Regions from separate parts of the Homo sapiens genome. Here region 2 is linked to region 1. Evidence: fine-mapped expression QTL. A gene starts in region 1. The other region holds a variant in brackets. All regions are shown on one strand. Distances are between the middles of the regions. Region 1 holds the start of MAGEF1 (MAGE family member F1). Region 2 has its middle 75 kb from the start of EPHB3.

The links.
Region 2: its variant is fine-mapped to the expression of MAGEF1 in whole blood (INTERVAL, PIP 0.96).

Annotation. Positions count from the first base shown.
Region 1 is chr3:184,708,771-184,717,099 of GRCh38, forward strand. It overlaps MAGEF1 (MAGE family member F1), which reads right to left and starts at 3,294. Exons shown (of 1, transcript NM_022149.5): 1 at 1,594-3,294. The coding sequence starts at 3,051. The coding sequence ends at 2,128. It overlaps LOC107986163 (a long non-coding RNA gene), which reads left to right and starts at 3,473. Exons shown (of 5, transcript NR_160768.1): 1 at 3,473-3,648; 2 at 6,261-7,404. RefSeq lists an enhancer at 2,494-2,553.
Region 2 is chr3:184,632,701-184,641,029 of GRCh38, forward strand. No RefSeq gene overlaps it. Among named protein-coding and RNA genes, the nearest start is that of EPHB3, 75 kb to the left of the region's middle. The variant C/T (reference allele first, on the strand shown) is at 4,520.

The sequences.
Region 1 (8,329 bases):
CCCAGGCTGGAGTGCAGTGGCACGATCTCGGCTCACTGCAACCTCCACCTCCTGGGTTCAAGCGATTCTCCTGCCTCAGCCTCCTGAGTAGCTGGGATTACAAGCGTGCGCCACCGTGCCCAGCTAATTTTTGTATTTTTAATAGAGACAGGGTTTCACTATGCTGGCCAGGCTGGTCTCGAACTCCTGACCTTGTGATCTGCACACCTCAGCCTTCCAAAGTGCTGGGATTACAGGTGTGAGCCACCGCGCCCAGCCAAGTCTTCTCATTTTAATAGTTCTGGTACCCATCAAAGTTGTTAGCACAGAGTGGACACTCAATATTTATGTTTAATGAACCATAAACTACCCAGAAGTTGTATTTTTAACCGTTAGCAACTTTTTTGTCCCTAAGCTGGTAGCTTTTGTCCCAATCTGATTTGTTGGATCCCTACGTCCCAAAGTAGTTTGTATTCCATGCCAACCTTAACATCCTCAGAGATGTTACTTGGACACAACTGGAAGAAAAAATTGATAAGAGAAAAGAAAGCAGCTCTTCTGTTTATGGCAGTTGCAGGGGAAGTTTCACCATCCGCCCACCCTGCCCCCGACCCTCACCCACTCTCTGGTTTGGGAATCACTTCTCTAAATTCCCTATTATTCTAAGTACCCTTTCTACAGGATTTACCCTCACGCAGAAGGTGGTGGGCATTGAAGAAGCCAGAGCTCCTTACAGATGACTCTCCACGGATAACATGAAGGGGAGGGATACCTCACAAGTCTCCTGTAAATGGGAGGTGGCAGGTGGAAAGCAGCAGGCAGAAACATGGAAGGGGGAACTGGGCTTCCTGGTGCCAGAGGAGAAATCTTGAAGTGGAACTTCTTGGTAGTAGTAGATTTAGGTACCCTTCATCCACACTACATAATATTCCAGAGGTGTTACATTATTTGATCTCTGAGGGCTTTGGTAGAGGAGGGAACCCTGTAGAGGTTGAAAAGGAGACAGAAAGGGCCAAAAAGTTGACAGTCAACATCTTTGTGCACTGTTAACAATCTGGTCTGGAAAGACAGCACTGGCAAAGGTAGAGTATTTCCCAGATCTGCCATGTATCAAGTCTGCTCACATTACTGAGGAGTAGCTGTGATCTGAAATCATTATTTTTATTTCTTATTTTTTTCTGAGACGGGGTCTTGCTCTGTCTCCCAAGCTGGAGTGCAGTGGTATGATCTCGGCTCACTGCAACCTCCGTCTCCTAGATTCAAGAGATTCTTGTGCCTTGGCCTCCCAAGTAGCTGGGATTACAGGTGTGTGCCACCACGCCTGGTTAATTTTTGTAATTTTAGTAGAAACAGGGTTTCACCATGTTGGCCAGGCTGGTCTTGAACTCCTGACTCCGGTGATCAGTCCGCCTCGGCCTCCCAAAGTGCTGGGATTACAGCAAACCTCACTCAATCATCCCAGCTGGGTTAAGTATCCCTTTGTAGACTTCAACTCATTGCACTGCTAATTTCTTGTTTATTTACTTACTCTTCAATTCTGAAAAAAAGTAGGACCTTTATCTTGTTTAGTATTCTATCCCCAAGTGCCCACACAGTGCATCACAGAAAACAAGATGCTCCACAAATGTTTAATTTATTAAGTGTGCCAGGGTATACTGCTAACTCATTGCATTTTAATTTTTCTCTAGATACTCAAATAGCTAAGCAAATGAAGGTACATGCCAGTCTTTCTTCTTTTATACACAACAGACAAAAGTGTTGGGGGGCTAGACACCAACCAGCTATTTTTTTCCCCTGGAACCAGATCATCATACTGCTGAGTTCCTTCAAACCATCAAAGTACAGCCTTCCTTCCAATGTTGCATAATCTGTTCAAAATCACAGTATAAATACAAAGTTCTTCCATCCATTTTACAAAACCAGCAAAACTCTACAATAAAATCCTACAGGAAAAAGTAGACCAATCTCATTTACAAACAGCATTTTAACAGTAATTATTAAATGTTACAAAACATAAGATACAAAATCTAAATCCTTAAAGTCACACGATTTCTACAGAAATAAGACCCTCGCCCCACCCATATTACTTATGACTCAGGACAGTAGTTCGTCCTCACGGGGACCCACTGGCCAACTTTTCACCAACCCTCACCAGAGGTGGATGCCGGCCCTAGCACTGGCCCTGGCCCTCATACTGGCTTCAGCTCTGGCCTTGGCTCTGGCCCTGTCGGCCTCGTCTGCTAGGGCCTCACGGTACTGCACTGGCCAGTGCTGCGGTTCCTTCTTATGCAGTTTGGCCACGAACCCCAGGACTTCCATCTTGCTGATTTCCAGGTTGCTTCGGGGACCCCAAGAGAATTCATATTCTGGTGGATTGGTGTGAGGCACCCGCCTGTAACTGAGATATCGCTGCTGCACAAAATCTTCCATAATAAGCCTCTTCGGATACCCAAAGAGGAAATGATACTTTGAGGGTTGCACCCCCAACCGACGCAGCATCTCCCAGACCTGGGCCTCCCTGGCGCTATTACCTCTCATATAGATAAGGCCCAGGATCATCATTAACAGACCCAATCTGGGGCCATCTCCTCCCAGATCCTCCTCCTCCTCCTCCTCCAGAGGTTTTAGTTTGTTGATCAGGATGTAAGTGTGGTGCTTGCGGTCAAACTGTTTCAGCTCAAAACCAAAGACATACCGCAGATGCTCTGCGGCCCTTGCGATGATGTCCGGGAACAGAATCTTCAAGTCTCCAATAACGTATTTCACCATCTCCGAGCGTGTGATGGGACTCTTCTTCTTGTCTTTCACCAGGAGGAACTGCACCAACTCCGCCACCGTCCGATTCAGCCGGCGGTAGGCCCTGCGCCTTGCCAAGGCTTTGGCCGCCAAGGCCCTCGCGCCTTTCCGGGTGAGGGCGGGCTCCGCAGCCCCCTCCTCCCTCCCGGCGCCAAGCTCCTCCTTGGGGCGCTCCTGCGAGGCGGTCGGGGCCCGGGTCTCACCATCATGGCCGCCATCCTTCTCCCCCTCGGCCTGCGGGACCGGGAGCCCCCTGCTCTCTGGTGTCTGCAACATGTTTTCGGGCAGGCAGGTGCAGAGCGCGTACACGGGCCGAGGGGTGTGGGAGCCGCCGCGCAAGCCCCGGGGGAGGGGTTGGACAGCGGCAGTGACGGCGGGAGTACAAGGAGCAATGGCAGCGGGAGCTTTGTGGCTGCTGGGCCGCACCGCACGGGAGTCAAACCTGCGGCCGCAACGCCGCCAGCAGCCGGAACCTGCGGCGCGCAGCCTCAGTCCGCGCCCGCGCGAGGGGCCACTTCCGGCCACCTCAGCCAGGACGGCGACCCTAGTGCCGCGCGCAGCCCCTCCTTTTCCGGTCCCTTCTGGGTTGGGGGTGTGCCCAGGCTGCTATAAGTGGAAATGCCCTGGAGGGTGGGGACGGGGGTGCGCCCTGTGACGGATTTTAGGCTTGAAAAGTCGGGGGCGGGGGAATGTAACCAGGACTCTCCCATCCAAGGCATGCAGACTGGGGAATGTTTCGGTGTACAAGAGATGAAATAGGGATGGAGTGCCCCCCACGTTCTTTCTGCAAGTGCCTATTTGTGAGTGTGTGTATCTGGGATTTTCAGTGCTTTACCGGGGCTCTTGTGCAGAGTGCACGGTGAAGGCTGCGAGGTAAGACTGTGCGAACCAATTAGTAAAGGATGCTAGGGAGACTGAAATTTATTCTGGACGTAAAGAGAAAATACTGCAGCGGGATTTAAGCAAGTGAGTGTCCAGACCAGATCTGTGTCTTCGGTTCTGGCGGTATTGTGGAAGATAGATTGGAGTTCGGCCGGCTAAAAGCTAGAATCCAGTTTGGAGGATTATTATAGTGCAAACTAGGAACTGGGACCCGGCCTATTTACTGGGTTGTATCCTCGGTGCCTAGAGCAGTGCCTGACACGGAGAGGAACTCAATAAATATTCAATGGATCATTATGATGAGGGAGTAAGGACAGCAGATTCCATGGGGATAAGAGGAAAATACTGAGAAGTACAGCAGGAATAGGGACTGGTTGGAAGAAAGGGGAAGTTTGTTCTTTTTTTTTTTTTTTTTTGCGCAAGTCAAATTTGACTACTCCCATGTATTTCTTTTCTTTTTCTCTTTTTACACACTCTGAGCTTTCTTCTGCTTCTTGCTCCTTCCTTCCTTCTTTCCTTCCCTCCTTCCTTCCTTCCTCCCTCCCTTCCCTCCTTCCCTTCCTGCCTTCCTTCCTTCCTTCTTTCCTTCCTTCCTTCCTTCCTTCTTTCCTTCCTTCCTTCCTTCCTTCTTCCCTCCCTCCCTCCCTTCCTTCCCTGTCAGAAATGCCCTCTCTATCACCTCCATTTCTCCAAATCCTGTCCACTATTCAGGGCCCAGTTTAAACATCACCTTCCCAAGCCTTCCTTAGTCACCACGCATAGAAGTTATTTACTGTCATCTCTGAATCACCTTAGCAATTGTTAACATCCACATATATAGGCTTTATTAGGTGCCAGGCTCCGTTCTAATCACTTTTCAAATATTAATTCATCAGATTCTCACTAATGTAGGTACTAATACCATCATCCCCATTTTATAGATGATTGTATCTTTTCTGTGACACAGTTTGCTACTTACTAGCTATGTAATCTTGGGCAAGTTACCTAAACTTCTGCCCTTCTGTTACCTTATCAGTAAAATGAGTATAATAGTAGTAACAGCATTGTGGAGATTATGTGAAGTAATGCACATAAGCATTTAACACAGTGCTTGGCACATATTGATATTCAATACATGTTAGCTGTTAATTAATGCATATTTTTATATGCAATATACAATATTAGAATTGCAAGATGAACTGTCCTGGAATGCCTAGCACTCTGTGGAGATGCGGAGGAGGTGTCCTGGGACATAGCACTGAACCGGGTCAGTACTCACCCATTCTGTGACCTTGTACAGGATGCTCAAACACCCTGGGCCACTTTTTTCTGATACTGTAGCCCTGCTAGGTAAGTGGTATTAGCCCCATTTTCCAGGTGAGGTTACACACAAGGAGGTTAAGTAACTTGCCCAACATCACACAGCTGGGATGTGAACCCATATAGTATGACTCCAGAGACTGTGCTCTTAACCACTACATTCATAGATGTTAATTATTATTATTATCATTTACTATATTTTGTATTATAATTTGTTGTGCTTATCTTATTACCCTCCCCAAACCAAACATCCTAAAAGCTAGGGCTATGTTTTTAACTCTTTTGAAGAGCTTCTCTTAGTCAATACTCGATATATAATTGCCAATGAATAAATGACAGAAGGCTTTACTTTTTTCCCTAGGAAATAACAGTTACTTATTTTAAGTAAATATCTGATAGACTTTTCTAAATCTAAATATGAAATCTTCCTTTTAAAAACTTTTGAAAATTTATACCCACTTGTATCATATGACTTACAAACCTGGAAGTATGTGAATGAAGCAGGAGAGGATGTTTATTATAGCCTAGCTTGAGGCTATTATTAGTTTTCATTGTGCCAAACATTCTATGTACAATATAATTTTGTCCTCACAAATCCCTATTAAGAAGGTATTATTATCCACATTTACAAATGGGAAAACAGTCACAGAGAGGTTAAATCACCTGCCCTGAACCACCCATCTGTTAAGTGCTAGACAAGAAATGAAAACCCAGATCTGTAAACTCTGAAGCAAGACTGCCTGGTTATCTGTTTTTCCTGAAGGTAGAGAGAGCCACCCATACCTAAAAGGACAGTGCTAGAGATAAAATAGTCCACTTACATATTTTCCTCACTACAAGGATTGCCAGGGAGATATGCAGGAGATACATGCACGGAAAGGAGCATGCAGAAGATATATTAAATGAAAAGAATTTTGAGGGACAAATCTGTGGTAATAGGGCTGGATTTTAAGAACTGAATAAATGACGATACTACTCATAAGAAGGAACAAACTACTGACACAATGTGAATGAGTCTGGCAGATATGTTGAGTGACAGATGAAAGATACAAAAGATTATACGTATAATATGATTCCATTTATCTGATGTTCGAGGCAGGATAAGCTAATCTATGGTGATAGAAATTAGGACAGTGGAGGCCTGGGGTGGTGTTGACTGGAAAGGGGTATCCAGGAACTTTCAGTGGTGATGGCAACGTTCTGTGTCTTGATTTGGATGTAGGTATACATTTGTCAAAACTTGTGAAACTGTACGCTTAATAGCTATGCATTTCTTTTCTTTTCTTTTCTTTTCTTTGCGACAGGGTCTCACTCTGTTACCCAGGCTGGAGTGGTGCAATGGCACAATCTCAGCTCACTGCAACCCCTGCCACTGCAACCCTTGCCTCCAGGTTCAAGTGCTTCTCTTGCCTCAGCCTTCCAAGTAGCTGGGATTACAGGCACCTGCCACCACACCTGGCTGATTTTTGTATTTTTAACAGAGACGGGGTTTCACCATGTTGGCCAAGCTGGTCTCAAACTCCTGACCTCAAGTGATCTGCCTGCCTCAGCCTCCCAAAATGCTGGGATTACAGGTGTAAGCCACCATGCCCAGCCAGGTATGCATTTCATAGTGTATGAATCATACCTCAAAATTTATAAAAATAAAAAAGGATTTTAAAAAATGAACAGCCCTTTAGGTATGGGAGGAGGCGAGGAGTAAGAAAGGTGAATGGACTCTGCATTACCACTTGCCGATCGCTAGATGTTACCATGTTACAGTGGAAGGAATGCAAACAATAATTTTTCCCATTTTTTTTTTTGTTATGTCCACCATGTAACCGGACACACAGAATTTTTTTTTTTTTTTTTTTTTTTTTTTGAGACGAAGTCTCACTCTGTCGCCCAGGCTGGAGTGCAGTGGCGCATCTCGGCTCACTGCAAGCTCCGTCTCCCACGTTCACGCCATTCTCCTGCCTCAGCCTCCCGAGTAGCTGGGACTACAGGCGTCTGCCACCATGCAGCTAATTTTTTGTATTTTTTTTTTTAGTAGAGATGGGGTTTCACCGTGTTAGCCAGGATGGTCACGATCTCCTGACCTCGTGATCCGCCTGCCTCGGCCTCCCAAAGTGCTGGGATTACCGGCATGAGCCACCATTTCCGGCAACAGGCAGACTTTTAACACATTCCTTACCTAAACTTTTAAAAGGGACAAAAGATATATGCCTTTGGTTTGGGAGATGACGAAACATATGCTTTAATGACTATTGGGTTGGAATCTTCTTGAGAGAGGATCCTTCTTAGCCTAGACTAGAGTCTTCAAAAGCCCACAGTGCTTCGTAAAGTTTCATACGTGGAAGAGAGAAGGATGTTCCACTGGAAAAGCAGAATTGCAGCTGAGCTGTCCTGAAATGCCCAGCACTCTGTGGAGACGCGGAGGAGGTTTCCTGGGACAAAGTGCTGAACCAGGTCAGTACTCGCCCATTCTGTGACCTTGCACAGGGTGCTGAACCTCTCTGAGCCACCTTTTCCTCATCTTTAGGCCCCAACAACCCTTGCTTTGCCCATCCTTACAGAGTTATTTTGAAGTTCAATCAAGATTATACATGTAAATATGCGTTTAAAGTGCTCCACCATTAAGAAATAAATATAAAATGTTACAGACCCTTTTCTAAAAGAGATATGGTGGAAAAATCCCAGTAATGAGGGTGACTGGCCTCTTAGACAGACATTTCGGAATAGCTTACACATTCCTCATTGAAAAAACTGTCTGGCCAAAAAAGATTAAATAAAGAAATGTCAAGTACTGACACTCCATTTGAGGCCAGTGAATACTTTGGTGCAGAGCCAGGGTTATCTTGTTGGATTCCTTCTAAACTTGGCAATAGAGTCCTCCAAACTCTTGAATGCCTTCTTCACACAGGTGCTCAGTAACATGTCACCCCAGATCTGATGGTCTCCAGGCTGCGTGGGTGCTTGTGTCTTCCCTATTTCTCCTGACAGTCTTGACAGCCGTGCAGCTGATCTGGCTCCAAACAGGGATCAGAGGAAGAGCTCTGTCCCTATCCCTAGGCCGGGACAAATTGAAGCTGGTTTTGTCAGAGCAGAATGGGCAGAGTGTGAGGCTTTGGGTCCCGTCTATGGGGCTGGGATTGAGGCAGGATGGCCAGGCGAATGATTCGATCTGACTTGGGTAATGAAAATTGTTTGTTACTTTTTGAAGAGTAATTGTGTAAGCAACAGTACTTCTGTGTTTGGCTGCCAGTGACTCACCAGTGTCTGTAATATAACACCAAACCCAGAGGAGGAGCAGACCCTGGCCAGCGGGGGAGGGGGAATGGCAGGGGGCAGAGGGCCCCCTACTCATTCATCCCCTTCTCCCTCTTCCACTGTC
Region 2 (8,329 bases), 76 kb before region 1:
ACACCCTCAGACACACCCACGTGCACACACACCTTCCCTCCCCACTTGCCCTTCAGACAGAAGAAGGCAGCATTCCGGCGCTCTCTGCCGCCACCTGACTGCCCTGCACAGAGGCCTCCCAGCCCCAGCAGAGCAAGATCTGCTGCCAGGCCGCCCCTGCTGCCCCCATCTCGGTCACTCATAAATGCCCTGAGGATGCCCACATGCTCAGACCCAGCCTTGCCCACCTGCTCCTGCCTGCGGCCTTTTCTTCCACATATCAACAGCCTCTCTCACAAGGGCCTTCACACAGCCTCTGACACACACACACTCAAACACATGGAACATGCTCTCCCTCCTTTGCCATCTCACTGTCACATGGGTCGGTCACTCTGTCTCCAGCCTCTCCCAGTCACATCCATGCGATTTGCCTGCCAGCTTGTCCCCTACAACTGCACCCCCAGCTTTGGTCTTTGTCTCATGCACAGATACACCCAGCCCTGTATCTGTCTGTCTGTCTCCCTCACGCAGGAACAACTTGAGCCATGGCAAGTGGGAGAGGGCGTCAGGCCTGATGGAAGCTGTTATTCTTAGCCCTGTCACTGAACACTTGCACCCCTCCCCAGCTCAGCCCCTGCCCTGCCTGTCACCCTCCCCTCGGGCAGAGCCGAACCTGAGGCCAGTCTAATCCCCCATCTGTGGAGAGGGAGGGGAGGCAGCAGGGGATTGCTGCCCAGCATTGAAAAGGAGCAGAAAATGGGATTTATTTTTGCTGCCCCTCATCCCCCCCTTCCCCGACTCTGCCCCCAGCTGCTCAGAGAGCAGTTGTGTGAGGAACGAGTGGGGGTGGAAGGAGGGAATTTGCATTTGAAAATGCTTGTTGGTTGGCCTGAAACACTGGGTGCCATTGCTGATCCGGTTCTCTGTGTGCACACGTGTGTGCATATGTGTGTGTGTGTGTGTGTGTGTAGGGTGTGGGAAGGTGGGGCTGTGGGTGAGAAGACACTGGGGAAGTGGACTCAGGGCTTTCTGGAGTGACTGTGTACCCCTTTCTTGCTTTGGAGCTGGAACCAGCCATAATAGATCAGACCCAAGCTCAGCTTCTTTTTTTTTTTGAGACAGAGTCTTGCTCTGTCGCCCAGGCTGGAGTGCAGCGGCGCCATCTCGGCTCACTGCAAGCTCCGCCTCCTGGGTTCAAGCAATTCTCTGGTCTCAGCCTCCTGAGTAGCTGGGATTACAGGCTCCCGCCACCACCCCTGGCTAATTTTTGTATTTTTAGTAGAGACGGGTTTTCACCATGTTGGCCAGACTGGTCTCAAACTCCTGACCTCAGGTGATCCGCCCGCCTCGGCCTCCCAAAGTGCTGGGATTACAGGTGTGAGCCACCTCGCCCGGCCCCAAGCTCAGCCTCTGTTTGGCCTCAGGAACCACCAACTCCTAGACCTCTCTCTGCCACCCGGGCCACTTGTAGGCCTCCATATCTTATGTCCAGCTGCCCTGAGTGGAAAGGAGGGAGTTCCACCCCAGGAAGTCCCGTGGACATCTCAACCCCAAGGTGCTTGGTCTTTTTCTCCAAACCTCTCCTTCTCCCTGGTGTCCCGAAGTCGGAAGCTTCAGACAACCCCCACTTCTTCCTTGCCCCACCCTTTCTGGTCTGCCTCAGAAGGTGCTCTGAAGGTGTCCTCTTGTCCCCACTCCCATGAACCCAGCCCCAGCAGGCCCCTCTTCGGCTCTTGCCAGGACTATTGCAGGAGCTGCTAGCTGCTCTTCCCACCCTCAGTCTCCCTTCCTGCCCATCCCTTCTCCAGACAGCTGCCAGTAACTTATTAAAAAGCCAAAATAAATAAAAGCGTATAGTGTCACTCTCCTTCTCAAAACGCTCCCCTGGCAGCTGCAGATAGAGTCTAGAGCCCTGGGGTGCCGCACCAGGGCCCCCGTTCTGTCCCATGTCCCTCCCACCACTCTCTCTGAGCCCTTCCCTTCCTCTCTGCTGGCTCTTTAGCCTGAAATAGCTTTTCCCTCTCCTTCACCTTGAGTGGATTTGGAATCCAATTTAGATATCATCTTCACTTCTGAAAACTTCTGCCTCCCCACACATACCTCCATGAGAATCGTTTTTAATCTTTTTACTCTCAAGGGTGTGTACAAACTTTAATTCCAGCCCTGAAACCACTACCCTTCAGCTCAGGGTCCCTTAATGAGTCCATCCTCGACGCCTGTGCCAGGCAGGGTCCTGTCATGCGTATGTCCTCTCTGGCCATCTCCATTTGACACAGTCCTGTCCAGCTTGAATCTAACCTCCCTGATGTTGACTCGTGTCTCCCTTCCTTTGGGATTTTCAGTCTGTGGCCACACTGGGCCCTGACTCTTTTGCCCTGTGCTGTCCACATTGTTTTCTACGTGCGGGTGTGGGGCCACCCCAGCTGGCCTGGGAGCTCCTGAGGGTGTCAGGGTGGAGTTCCTGCAGCCATGCCCCTGTGGAGCTCTGAGTGGTACTGGGCTCACAGCCAGGACTCAGCGACTTTGGGGACTGGGGCTGCAGGGCATTGAATTTAAGTCGGGAAGAGGGAGGAGGAGGGGACGGGAAGAAAGGAGCCCTTAGCAGGCGCTGAGTGAAGGCAGGTTGTAGGCCCCTGGGACTCCACTCTCAGGGCAGGACTGGGGGCCACAAGGCCTGCTCTCGCCTGGCAGCTGTGAGGAAACCTGCTCCCAGAGGTGATGCCAGAGGTGCGGGCCACCGGGGCAAGTGGTCTGGCGGCTGGCCAGGATCTGACTCTGACACTGGCCTGCTGAGTGCCCAGAAGAAAGAGGCTCAGAGGGAGAGCCAGAGCATGAGAGACATGGCAGGGACGCTGAGTGAGAGGGACAGAGAGAGACACGGCAACAGGGACAGAGACAGAGAAGAGGAGAGGGGGGCACAGAGACACATACGCTGAAAGAGAGACAGACAGATTCAGAGACAGACTGAGAGACAGAGTGACTTAGAGACACGCACAAAGAAACAGACTGATGGAAAGAAAGACAGGGTCCGAGAGAGACACACAGACCAGAAGACAAAAAGGAAGGCAGACAGAGAGGACAGAAAGGAGTGAGGCAGCGTGGGGAGAGAGAGGCAGGGACAGAAACACAGACACAGACAGACATGAGGGCACAGGGCAGCCCGAGAGAAGCCCATAAACACAGGCACGCACATGCGTGGAGGAGGCACGAAGCCACCTAAAGGTGGAGGGAGGGTGTCGGGGAGGAGAAGGCACAGGCCTGACGCTCAGGGCCTGGGGTTGGGTGGCGGGAGGCTGGGCCTGTCGGCTCCTCTCCTTGACGTGAGTCAGGGGTGGTGGGCAGGCTGATGGGGCAGGCCTGAAGTAGGGCTGCGTGGAAGGGCTCTGCGGGGTCAGGGGAAAGCCTGGGTCCAGCTGTGAACCCTCCAGGATCCAGGGCTGCCCCAACAGGAGCCCCAGGAGAGGGAGCTGGAACCAGAGAACAGCACGTGGCAAGAGGCCCCAGTTAAGCTTTGCAGCAGGATGGCCCAGTGGCTACTGGGTTCAGAACAGCTTCTTGGGAGCTGGGTGTCGTGGCACATGCCTGTAGTCCCAGCTGCTCAGGAGGCTGATCGCTTGAGCCCGGGAATTCACGACTAGCTTGGATAACATAGTGAGACCCTGTTCCTTAAAACAAAAAACAAACAAACAAAAAAACACAAAAAAAAACAGCTTCCTGGACATGGAACCTCTCACCTCAGCAAGGAGAGGAGCTGTGGAGGGAGCACAGGGCTGAGACCCTCAGAGTTCCTCCATGGGAACAGCGCACCTGCATCTGTGTCTAAGCCTCAGAGAGACTCCCCAGGCCCTTGGCAGTCCATTCCATTGTTCCACCGTCCAATACAGAGAGCCCACTGGAAGTCCTCCCTGCTGTCTCATTCTGATACCTCTTATTGCAAGTGCAGCCCACTCAACTCTTTAGGAGGTTAAAAAAAAAAAAGCAACAAAAACCCCTCCACCGAAATCTGAAATGCCACACAGTGCTCAGACAAAGACCCCTTTCTGCACAGCTTTACTCCCTCCTACACCTCTCTCCCCCTCCCCACCCCGCTTCCTTACTGCAGGCTAAATTGGCAGTGGGGAGGTTTTGAGTCAACAAATGCAGTGGGTTGGGGAAGGGAGCCCTGAAGGGGATTCCTGTCTGGGAAACATTTGCTGACAGCAGTTACTATGACAAGGAAGGCCTGCAGGAGAACCCAGCAGCCCCTGCCTCCTGCCTACTGCCCCTCCCAATTCTAGCTCTCCTTGCCCATCCCCCCTCCCAACCAGTTCATTCACTGACTCATCCATTCCATCATTTACTCAACTCAACAATCTTTAGACATTTACCATGCCTCCAGCACCCGCTTGGCATTTCATGTTTATTCTTCCACTCTGTCCTCACCACAACCCACAAAGTTATCTGTTGTTTTCCCTTTTGACAAAGTAGAAAGCTGAAACCCAGTATACTGAATTGACTTGCCCAGAGTGGTGCAGATGACAGGAGGCAGAGCTGGGATTTG[C/T]ACCCAGGACTCTCTGCTTTCCAGATCAGTGTGGGGGTTTCTGAACTGCGTCAGGAAAGCAGGTGCCAGGTGATGAGTACTGTACAGGCTGAGACTTCGCCATCTTTGGCTCTGCATCACTAAAACTGTGCCCAGCACCCACACACAGTAGGCACTCAGTACACACTTGTGCCATACATTCAGCACACATGAACTCAGTATACACATGTGCTTTTTGATGGGAGGGCAAGAGTCAGCAAAAGTGGGACTCCTGAGAAGAGAGGGCCTTCCTGTTTGGAAGCAGCTGTACCTCGGTTCTGCAATCCAGGCACTCAAGGGCATTGATAAAGTGCCTACTGTGTGCCGGGCACTGTGTTAGGACCTCTGAATACAAAGATTTAAAACACAGATTTGTAGTTTGCCCTAAAGGAGGTCTTTGTTTAGTGGAGGAGGCAGACATATAAACAGATGGAGTTAGCAGTGCTACAGAAATAAGTACCAAGTGCCGTGGGGTTGCAGGTGGAGCAAGGACCTAAATCTGAAAAGCAAAACAAGAAAGCCTTTATAAGACAATGTAAAAAAAATCTCCGTGACCTCAGGGTAGGGAAAGATTTCTTAAACAACACACAAAAATAACACTAACCATAAAGAAAAAGATTGACAAATGTGGGTGCATTAAAATGAAGAAGCTGTGTTCTTCAGAAGACAACATGAAGAGAGTAAAAGGGAAGCCACAGAGCAGGAAAAGGTTTTGCAACACATGCAACTGACAAAGGGCTCAGCTCCAGAATGTGTAAAGAACTCCCACAAATGAGTATGAAGATTGGCAACTCAATGGAAAAACTGGATCAAATGCATAAATATGGAAAAATCCAAATGGCTATAAATATATGAGGTGTGTGACCTTATCAGGAATCAAAGAAATGCAAATTAAAATCCCAAGAAGATTCTACTACATACCCTCCAGATTAGCAAAAATGTAAAAGTCTGATAAAACGAAGGGCTGGTGAAGATCTGGACCAGGAGTTCTCAAATATCTCTTCAGAAGCAGCCGGTCAGCATCTAAGCAGTCAATTCAGACATGTGTACTCCAGAGGTGAATCGTGTACAAGAATGTTCGTGGCAGGCATTATTCATGAAGGCCCCAGACTGGAACCAGTGAATATCCAACAGCTGTAGATTGGATAAACTGAGTACAGAGAAACAGAATGAAGAGCACAGTTAATTCTGCCTGAGGGGCTGGGGTGTCTGGGAAGGTGGATCTTGGAGGAAGAATAGTTTCCCAGTCAAGGAAGCGGGAGAGAGGTTATCCCATCCAGAGGGTTCAGCAGATGGATGATCATGGGGTTAAGAGCAGTTCTAGCTTGTCCAGGAGGCAGCTGGATTAGGGGCTGGCAGGGAGAGAGGCAGGGAAGGTGAGCAGAGAGAGGTTGGATGTGTTGGAATGTGAAGGCCTCTGTGGGCCATCGAAGGAAATTTGGCTTAAATACAAAAGTGAGAGATAGTCAGAAGCAAGGAGCAACTAGAGGTTATTGCAAAAGATGATGCAGCAGGAAAGAAACATAGCAGTGTGGCGGAAGAGAGAGGGTGCATTTGGGAACCATGTCTGAGACAGAATACATAGGATGTTGTGTGGGGTGTTGGGAGGGGTCAGGACGGAGCTGAGGCAACTCCCAGGTCTCTGGCTGGCCGGCTGGGTGGAAGGTGATGCTCTAACTCAACATCCAGAGACTGCGGAGGTGGAGGTTTGAGGCAAGAGCTAAGAGGACTAGTTGGGGACATGCTGCTTTGGTGGTGCCTAGGGATACACAGGTGAACATCCAAGTTCACCAGGATGTGGAGCTTGGACATGAGCCACAGATATCAGAATTACTAGAGCAAGAAGCCATGGGTTTAGATGAGAATATCAGGGGTGCAGGAGCAGGGCAAGACAAGAATTGGAGCTCTAGGAACCACAACATAGAGGCAGTGGACAGAGGAGAAGCAGGGGAGAGAGAGGGAAGGGATGATGGAAAATAAGAGAAGGTCCAGAAGAGAGGGTGGTGCTGCAGCAGCTAAGGGAGGAGCAAGTTGCACCAGGGCTGGGTGGTCTGTGAGTGAAAACTAGGTCTTGGGAAGAGGTGGGGTTGGGTCTGTGGTTAGCAAAGAAGAGGAGGAGAGGGTAGTTGAGGGAGTTCTGAGAATCTCTATTTTCTCTGTCAATTACACATGACGGAGGGGACAGGCCGGAAGCCTGAAAGGGTGGTAAGTTTCAGAACAGGAGCTGATCACCAGCAGCCCAGGAGCTGAAGGGCCAGGCTGAAGTCAGGGACCATAAATCTGGAGTGGCACTAGTTTGCACGGTTGAGTGGTTTTCCTATGCCTTCTAGTAGCCTGGGAATTGCAATGGACAAAGCAGATGACTGGAGTCCTCCAGGGCTGGGAAAGGCAGGGTGAGGGGGTGTGGGAATCAAGGGTGTCGGGAAAATGAATGATGTGGCCAATCACAGGCAGGTCAAGAGAGGAGAAAGTAGAGCCAGGAAGGAGCAGATGCGCTGGCGGAAGGCCTTGTCCAAAGCCGGCACTGCAGCACCGGTGCTCGAACGAGTGAGACAGAACGGGAGAATTGGAGAATCTCTGCGAGTGGAGACCAGGTTTTATGGAAAGGAAGGAAAAAGTTGTGGCCCAAGATGGGGGTGCTGGAGTTTAAGATTTCACAGGAGACGTTTCAGGTGATATGTGGGTGGCAGAAATGGAGAGAAGGTCGTTGGGGAAGGGGAGATAGGAGAGCCAAGGGTGAGGGTGTTGGGAAGTCCATGTGGACATTCAGGTCCCCCAGACTGACAGCAGGAGGTGGGAGACAGAAGAAGACCCTGAGCCAGGCGCCCAAGTCCTCAAAAGACGTTGAGTGACCTCTGGGTGGATGGGTGATCCCAGCCAGGTTGGGTGAGGGGTGTGTGGCTGGATGGTGGGAACCTGGAGGTCTGGTTTTGAGTGGGAGAGGAAGAGTCATGGACTGGGTGGCAGAGAGAGGTGGAAGAATGCTGACTGTCCGGCCTGGCCAGGTGCCACCTCCAGCAAGCTCGTCTGATCACTCTCTTCTTGACCTTCATTGTTCTTTGAGTCTGAAAGACTCCATTTAACCCTTGAGTATCCACAGCCCCAATATTTGCTTCTCTCCTCCAGAGATCACTGGGCAGAATTCCCATGGGTGGATTGTGGCTTCTGTGTATTGTGGCCCCAGTGTATTCTGAGAAATGGGCCATGGACACAGGACAAAGAGGCCTTGACCGCAGCTTGGGTTAGTGAAAGTGTGGGCTGCTCTGGGCCAAGCCACACCATCTACTTTGGGCCCAGCAGGCTGGGCTCCTCCACCCCTACCCCATCTCCCTGGGACATGTGGAGCTTTTCTACCCTTCATTTTGCACATGGAAAATTAAGCCAATAAAAGCCTCAAGAATATTAAGGCATGGGCTGAGGCCTGATGGCATCTGGAACCCCGTCTGCAATACCTGATTCCCTTCACCTGCTATCAAAATCTTGCTCAGCCTTCAAGGCCCAATCAAGGGAGCCTCACCTTCTTTCTGATCTTCCCTTCTCCACGTCAATTACTTTGCTGGCTAGATTCTTGGTCCTTCCATTTGGCATTTGTTTTCACCCATCTTAAAGTTGGTTGCTAAGAGTCTGTGTTTTCTATAAGACTTCTTTTTTTTTTTTTTTTTTTTTTTTTTTTGAGACTGAGTCTTGCTCTGTCACCCAGGCTGGAGTGCAGTGGCATGATCTCGGCTCACTGCAACCTCCGCCACCCAGGTTCAAGCGATTCTCCTGCCTCAGCCTCTCGACTAGCTGGGA